Linked DNA regions of Homo sapiens. The protein of the gene in region 1 interacts with the protein of each later gene in a pairwise test. Each region holds a gene or a part of one and is shown on either strand. Other genes may lie near its edges. The genes, in order: ACSS3 and LEFTY2.

Region 1 (3,810 bases):
TGTGACTAATGAACTAGGGTAATAGCAGGAGGTGTAGAAAGAGAGGAACTTCAGGAATAAAAATTAAATTACACATAGTGACTTTTTGGCAGCGGGATGCAGGGAAGTAAAGACATGGTAACTGTAAGAATCTGACTTAAATGTCCAGATGAGGAATTGATGGGGCAATTAAAGTTACGAGGCTGAAAACTGGGAGAGAACTTGATGTAGAATTATAGATTTTAGTATAAATCTTAAAGAGGTGAGAGGTAGAAGCTTATGAAAGTTGAAGTGAAAGAGAGAAAGAAAGGGAAGAGAAGAGGAAAATAGTAAGGACTGAACTTTGGGAAAAAGTGGGAGAAAAAAAAACTATGGAAATGGATGAGACATTCAAAGAAAGAGGAAAAGAAAGAGCAAGATATTCTAGTGTCATGCATTGTAAAGGAGAGAAAAGATAAAAATAGTGGTCAAGGGCTCTAGAGATGCTTTGAGGCTATTGAAAATCAAAAAAATATCTGCTGTGACTCAGAGATTCTTGATGACTTTCTATAATATGATATCAATGGTGAGATAAGGGCCAAAGCCAGAATAGCACATTACAGAGTGAACTGGTATAGGCAAAAACATTCCATGAGGATATTCGACAGTGACAGGAAGATGAAACAGGATAATATATGGCAGTATGGTGGTATCTGGGTCAAGTAAAATAAGTTTCTTCCTCATTCCTTATTTCCTCTCCTCCCTTTAAGAAGAAATCTATGTTTAAATGCAGAAGTGAAGAAATTATGAAATAGGAATGAAGGGAATTTTGCTTGTTTTGAAGCCTACTGCTCAACAGGACTCCTTGTTTTTGCAAGTTGAACTTTGTGTGGTTTCTTATGTTAATTTTTTGCTTTTGCTGCTACAAGTTACTGAAAGAAACAGGTTGCAAAAGTCTCAGAATTGGTATAAAGAGTACTCAGTAGATCTGTTTGTTCTTTTTAAATACTACAGTGATTCTAGTGAGCTAAATATCTCAATATTTGTTTGTGAGTCTGACAGGGAGGATAAGGAAGCAGCTGAAAAGGGAAAAGATAATGAATATTTGTTGAGTCCTTTCTCTGAACTATCAACTATACAGTAGAGTCACATATTTCCATTTATTCCTTCCCCAGATGCTGCAAAGTTAGTATTATCATGCCTTTTCTACATATGAGGGAATTGAATCTTAAGGCCACACAGCTAGTTAGCAGAGGCTAGACCTGGGTTAGTATTAATAGCTCCAGTGGCTAAGCCCAGAATCTTTTCCTCCAAATATCAAGGGAACTGTTCCGAAGGCAGGTTGCCAAATCTTGGCCAACCTGAAAAAGATTTTTGGCTACTAAATTGAAGGAGACCAAAGAGATATGAATTAAATGCAAAAGGTAGTTTCTGAATATTTTCACCATAATTGATATTTTTGAGGACAAGTAAGAAGCCAGAACAGGATTTCAGGATTGGATGGTGGTAATGTGTCAATATTAGTTTCCTGAAGTTGATGGTTATAGTATCGTTCTCTAGAAGAATGTCCTTATTTATAACAATTACATATTAAATTATTCTAGGGTTCTTGGGCATCATGTCAGTAAATGTTTCAAAGGGAAAAAAAAAGTACTTTATCTTGTAATCGCAAATTTTCTGTGAGTTTGAGATTGCTTCAAAGGAAAATAAATACAAATATAATGGGGATTTTATGTATCCAGAAAGCAATTTAATCCCCCTATTGAACTTTGGCTCTTTGGCAAACAAATGCTCAGCTACATTAAACTGTTTGGGAAATTCAGTATTTGTCAGATATTTTTAAAATTACATTTAATTCTGGTTTGAAGGTGAGAGTGTTATATAAAGAGGAAGAATTTTTCTCCTTTTGACAAACTCTAAATTAAATGAATTTATTCATAGCGTTGTACACAGTAAAGGTATATTTAAAATATAAAATCATCATTATTTTATAGATTTAAAAATATTTTAAGAAGGTATCTGCTTGGCATGAAAAATTGCCTGTTAGAAATAAGGCCTCTCAAAATAACCTCATCAAGAAAGACCAGTTTTAAAAGATGGGCCTTATTTTATATTCTGAAGGTCAGCAGCTTGGTACTGTGCCGTATCTAATTTTCTCAGCCTGTCATGCTGCTGAACCTTCAGGACAGAACAGAGTGAACTACAGGAATGCTGCAATTACATAAGCAAGGATGGATTGCCTGGCAAATGGCGCAATCAATGAACAATGGAAATTCAATCGGCTGTGACTGATCAACTACTAGGTGTTGGGGGAAAATCCACACTCTTATCACCGCCTGAAAGGTGGCTTACTTTTCTTTTGTCATGCCACATATAGTATTAGTTGAAAGGACAAAAAAAATCCAGTGGTTGAAGTTGTTTGCTTGTTCTTCTTCTTCTTTTTATTTTTTTTTATTCTACTTTCATAAGCAACAAGCTGCAACTCCATGAGGGAGATCATTGCTTTCCACTGTGGTGTGACATTTGTAAGAAAAATGTGTAGGAGGCTAATGAATCTTTGCAATTATATATATGAATGTAATAACCTCTCTAAATTACAGTTTCAAGTATATGTGAATGTGGAGCTCAAATCCTTTATCTAAACTACGTGGATAGGGAACTTGTTATATTAAAGGTATTAATTATATTTGTTTTTGTCAGTGTTTTAGTTGAATGAGGTAAGGAACAGTGCATAGAAAGGATAGGTATTATTTTTATAATATCTTAGGAAAATTAAAATTTGTGAATTTTGAGTTTGAAGGAGTCCAATTGGAAATACGAGGATAGTAAAAAACAGAAGGTCTTTCAAATACTAAATTAGAGAGGGACAGAGTTTAATTATATGGCTTTAATAATTTAAAACATTAATTGCCTTAAGAGGGAGGAAAGCAATTAAAGTCTGTAGGTCTTTGACTTATGACCTGACTCTGGACAATAGGAATACCTTCTCTTAAGGTGTTTATGGTAGAATAACAACACTTGCCAAGTATAATCTTTCAAGGTGTCATTGCTAAGTGGATGCAGCAGTTAAGTAAAATAAATTTGGTAAGATGAAGAAGAAGGAGCAGGAGAAGAAGAAGAGCAGGAGGAGGAGGAAGGAGGAAAGAGGAAGAGAAGAAGAAGAAAAGAAGGAGGAAGAAAAAGAATGCTTAATTTCTACTGTAGATCTGGCCAGTATAGATATCTGTAGAAAAATTTAGTAAGACTAAAAAAAAAATTAGTCACTCCGTATTATTGTCCATTTGCTAAATAACTTTAATCTAATGAGTGCATGGGAGCTTAGAAAAGTCCACTTTTGCGCTAATCTCACTTTGCATTCTCTCCATACATTTTTTCTTATTTTCATAGAATTCCATTGATTTTCAATTGAGAGGCAAGTATTTTTCTATAATAAACCACAAATACCTAGACTGTGCCTTCCTCTAACTCTCCCTCCCAACTCTCCCTCCTTAAGTACAGATGAAATTTGCCACTCTTATCAATGGGATTTGTTGGATACCCTAATTTTGGTGGTTAGGAGGAAAAAGTATTGAGAATTAGTTAGTGGAGAAAACAAACTGATTTCTGGTTCAAAATCTTGGCTCTACTCTTTGAACAGTATCTTGGTCCAAATAATTATAATACGGAAGAATTATAAAATGCATACTGTGATGGGTATTACTATTTTTTGTGTTGTTTCTTTTCTCGTCTGTTCTCTTCTGCTAATATGTAGGAAGATTGGTCTTCCCCACATATACGTGATTATGCGATTAGCTTTGGCCACTGCAATAAGAGGAGCAAGGCTTTTCACTTAGTTAATTGCCAGAGCTTCAA
Region 2 (4,403 bases), on another chromosome or scaffold:
TGCATCTGCAAGATGCACCTGAAACTGACACCTGCCTCCTAAGGGCTGTGTGAATACACATTCAGAGCTTAGAACAATGACTGGCACATGCACTCAGGAAATGTGTGCTATTATTGTTGTTGAGAGTTTTATAAAAAGCCACGACCTGGCCCGGCACGGTGGCTCATGCCTGTAATCCCAGCACTCTGGGAGGCCAAGGCAGGCGGATCACCAGGTCAGGGGATCGAGACCATTCTGGCTGACACGGTGAAACCCCATCTCTACTAAAAATACAAAAAATTAGCCGGGCGTGGCATGCGCCTGTAGTCCCAGCTACTCGGGAGGCCGAGGCAGGAGAATTGCTTGAACCCAGGAGGCAGAGGTTGCAGTGAGCCTAGATCGCGCCACTGCACTCTAGCCTGGGTGACAGAGTGAGGCTACGTCAAAAAAAAAAAAAAAATGCAAAAAGCCACGACCCTGTGAATGCAGATTTCAGGCAGATAATAATGATAGCAAACCCTTACAGAGTGTTTACCTGTCACTAGACACTGGGTGAAACATCCTGCATGTATTAATGCATTTAATCTTCACACTAACCCTATGAAGAAGACCTTATGATCATCACCCTCTTTCTGTAGATGAGGAAACTGAGGCACTGAGAAGTTAACTCACTTGCTAGCAGGTCAAACAGTTAGCAGATGGCAGTTCTCATATTTGAACGTGGCCAGTCTAAAATGTGTGTTTGAAGAGACACAGGGGGGCTCCCACCTCAATCTGCCCCCAGTACCTGTGGCTTTGGACAGGCCATGCCTTTGGGCAGCTCTGGCCTCTGCTTTCTAAGTCCCTGTCCCTTGTCTGTGTCTGGAAATGACCTGGGCTCCAGCTGAGTGCTGGTGGCATGAACCGGCCAGCCAGCTCACTGGGGAGAGCACACCCCAGAATAATTCTGCTGTCTGAAGGGAGGACTCCTGTGCTGTGGTCACGTGACTGCAAAGGCACTTGCTGAAATTGCTGTTCCTGGGACTCCTAAAGACAGTAGAGCTGCCAGATTTGTGTCCTGACCGTGTCTAGACAGAGGATGTCATGGGGGGAGGGCAAGGACGGTGCGACAACCCTGAGGGACCCCTGGTGTGGGGAGAGGCAGGGGGTGTGCAAGGAGTGTAGGTTGGAGGGAGATGACCAAGGGGCTTCTGTGAATGTGGCCAGAACCAGCAGGAAGGCAGAATCCTTCCCGCCCTTCCTTTATGATTTGCAGACCTGGACCCAGCCCAGCCTCCAGAAGAGACTTAAAGAGATTTAAGCAGCTGGCTAGCAGGACTTTGTTTTTCACAGAATAGACTCACTTTTTCATAGAACAGGGCTGGGGTAAGGCCAGGAAAATTCAACAGGCACTAAAAATATTGTCAAGCTGCTGACAGCACAGCCAGAGGCCCCAGGCCTGGGTGGCATCCAGACAGCCCTGTCCTTTCTAGACAGCCCCCTCCTCCAGGCTCAGGGACCTGTCTGGCTGTGAGCTCCCAGGAGGTCCCAGGGGTGTGACCTCCCTCCCTCCCTCCCTCCCTCTTCCCTTCACCCCAGGCCAGCCCAGGGCCAGCTATAAAGCTGGCCCAGCCTGGCTCTCAGCACACCCAGCTGCCTGAGACCCTCCTTCAACCTCCCTAGAGGACAGCCCCACTCTGCCTCCTGCTCCCCCAGGGCAGCACCATGTGGCCCCTGTGGCTCTGCTGGGCACTCTGGGTGCTGCCCCTGGCTGGCCCCGGGGCGGCCCTGACCGAGGAGCAGCTCCTGGGCAGCCTGCTGCGGCAGCTGCAGCTCAGCGAGGTGCCCGTACTGGACAGGGCCGACATGGAGAAGCTGGTCATCCCCGCCCACGTGAGGGCCCAGTATGTAGTCCTGCTGCGGCGCAGCCACGGGGACCGCTCCCGCGGAAAGAGGTTCAGCCAGAGCTTCCGAGGTGAGACCCTCCCTCCCTGCTGGCCCCGGTCCCATGGTCGGGGGCAGGCCGGTTGTGCCCACTCTGGAGGTGTCGAAGGGCCCCTGGCCTTTTGGGACTCTGTGGGAGGCTGTGTGAGGGCCACGGTCCAAGGAGCAGTGAGGAGGAGCCGGGCCTGGGTCCAGGGTCTCCAGCTGTGCACTGAGGCCCCCCTCCAGCCCAGGGGAGGTGCACCAGGCTAGACCTGCTGGAAAAACCAAGACTTCAGAGAAGGGGAGGGTAGAGGAGAGAAAGTAGAGCTGGGGGAGCAGGTGAGTGTGTGCCTCAAGGCACTTGGTGCAGCTGGACTCCCAGGGTATGTTTTCACACTGCCACTCTGGTCTGAGCCTGACCTTGAGTAAATGGCTTTAAAATCCTCTCTCCACCATGTGCTCATCTGGAACAGGGGTATGACTATGTCTTCGCCATCTCCCAGCACTGTGAACGTCAAAGTGAGTCCTTGTGGATAGAAGCGTGTTTGGATAACTGAAAAATACCTAAGTAGACTACCTGGGTTATACCTGGCTGTCAGGGGTGCAACTGGGCCTGAATCCTCCTGCAGCCTCTCGCCTCCCTAGCTCCTCAGTGCCCAGAGCTAGAGCCAGTGCCAGGCACCTGGGTGAGGATTCTGCTCCCAGCATCTCAGCTGAGGCAAACTTGCTAGCCAGGGTCCCACAGGCCCCCCTGCCTGCTGGATGGAAATTGTTACTAAACAAGGCCCAGATCCAAGGAAGATTTGTAAACTGGGTTTGCCCCAGAGATAGAACAGGGCCGGTGTCTCCTGGCCTGGCTGCCAGCTCAGTGGCCCTGCCATCCTCAGAGCTCCGCTGGAGTCCGGGGAGGCCCTGCTGACCCTGCTCTTGTCCCCAGAGGTGGCCGGCAGGTTCCTGGCGTCGGAGGCCAGCACACACCTGCTGGTGTTCGGCATGGAGCAGCGGCTGCCGCCCAACAGCGAGCTGGTGCAGGCCGTGCTGCGGCTCTTCCAGGAGCCGGTCCCCAAGGCCGCGCTGCACAGGCACGGGCGGCTGTCCCCGCGCAGCGCCCAGGCCCGGGTGACCGTCGAGTGGCTGCGCGTCCGCGACGACGGCTCCAACCGCACCTCCCTCATCGACTCCAGGTGGGGGTCGCGCGGGCGCGCAGGGCAGGAGTAGGAGGCTGCTCGGCCCGGCTTGGGGGCGGGGACGCAGGGGGCGGTGCAGGGTCCTCGGGGCCCGTCCCAGTCCCCGCCCTCAAGCGGCGCTGGGTCTCCGTGTCGTGTGTATCATGTCTCAGGCTGGTGTCCGTCCACGAGAGCGGCTGGAAGGCCTTCGACGTGACCGAGGCCGTGAACTTCTGGCAGCAGCTGAGCCGGCCCCGGCAGCCGCTGCTGCTACAGGTGTCGGTGCAGAGGGAGCATCTGGGCCCGCTGGCGTCCGGCGCCCACAAGCTGGTCCGCTTTGCCTCGCAGGGGGCGCCAGCCGGGCTTGGGGAGCCCCAGCTGGAGCTGCACACCCTGGACCTCAGGGACTATGGGTAGGTGCAGGACTGGGCAGAAGGGAGGCAAGCAGCCACTGAGTGGTCCAGACCCCCGTCCCCAGGACTGTCTGGGGGACCGGATGGTGGCGGTGGGCTAGGGGTAGGGAGAGCGCGGTGCAGACTGTCCCAGGATGCCAGCGATTGCCCACTACATGTCAGGGTTTCTAATGGCAGAAATTGTATTGTTGGCCAGGCGTGGTGGCTCAGACCTGTAATCCTAGCACTTTGGGAGGCCGAGGCGGGCTGGATCACAAGATCAGGAGTTTGAGACCAGCCTGACCAACATGATGAAACCCCGTGTCTACCAAAAATACAAAAATTAGCCGGGCGTGGTGGCGCGTGCCTGTAATCCCAGCTACTCAGGAGGCTGAGGCAGGAGAATCACTTGAATCCGGGAGGTGAAGGTTGCAGTGAGCTGAGATCACACCACTGCACTCCATCCAGCCTGGAGGACAGAGCGTGATTCTGTCTCAAAAAAAAAAAAAAAAAAAGGAAACAAAGAAAAGAAAAGAAAAAGAAATATTATATTATTCAGGCCAGGCGCAGTGGCTCATGCCTGTAATCCCAACACTTTGGGAAGCTGAGGTGGAGGATTGCTTAAAGCCAGGAGTTTGACACCAGCCTCGGCCACACAGTGAAATCCTATCCTTAAAAAAATAAATAAAAAAAAAAAGTTTTAAAGAAACGACAAAAAAAAAATTGTAAGGCCAAGTATGGTGGCTCACGCCTGTAATCCCAGCACTTTGGGAGTGGAGGCCAGCGGGTCACCTGAGGTCAGGAATTCCAGACCAGCCTGGCCAACATGGTGAAACCCCGTCTCTACTAAAAATATAAAAATTAGCTGGGCGTGGTGGCGGGCGCCTGTAATCCCAGCTACTTGGGAGGCTGTGGCAGGAGAATTGTATGATTTATTTTATTTAAAAATATCTTTGACAAT

Evidence for each region.
Region 2: the proteins of ACSS3 (region 1) and LEFTY2 interact in a two-hybrid assay, tested with the Homo sapiens proteins (one large-scale study listed by BioGRID and IntAct).

The regions. Positions count from the first base shown.
Region 1 is NC_000012.12:81,084,332-81,088,141, forward strand, and holds part of ACSS3 (acyl-CoA synthetase short-chain family member 3, mitochondrial isoform 1 precursor), read left to right. Parts: intron 1-3,810. UniProt on the Homo sapiens protein: Catalyzes the synthesis of acetyl-CoA from short-chain fatty acids. Propionate is the preferred substrate. Can utilize acetate and butyrate with a much lower affinity.
Region 2 is NC_000001.11:225,938,421-225,942,823, reverse strand, and holds the start of LEFTY2 (left-right determination factor 2 isoform 1 preproprotein), read left to right. Parts: upstream 1-1,603; 5' UTR 1,604-1,683; coding exon 1,684-1,933; intron 1,934-2,821; coding exon 2,822-3,068; intron 3,069-3,223; coding exon 3,224-3,463; intron 3,464-4,403.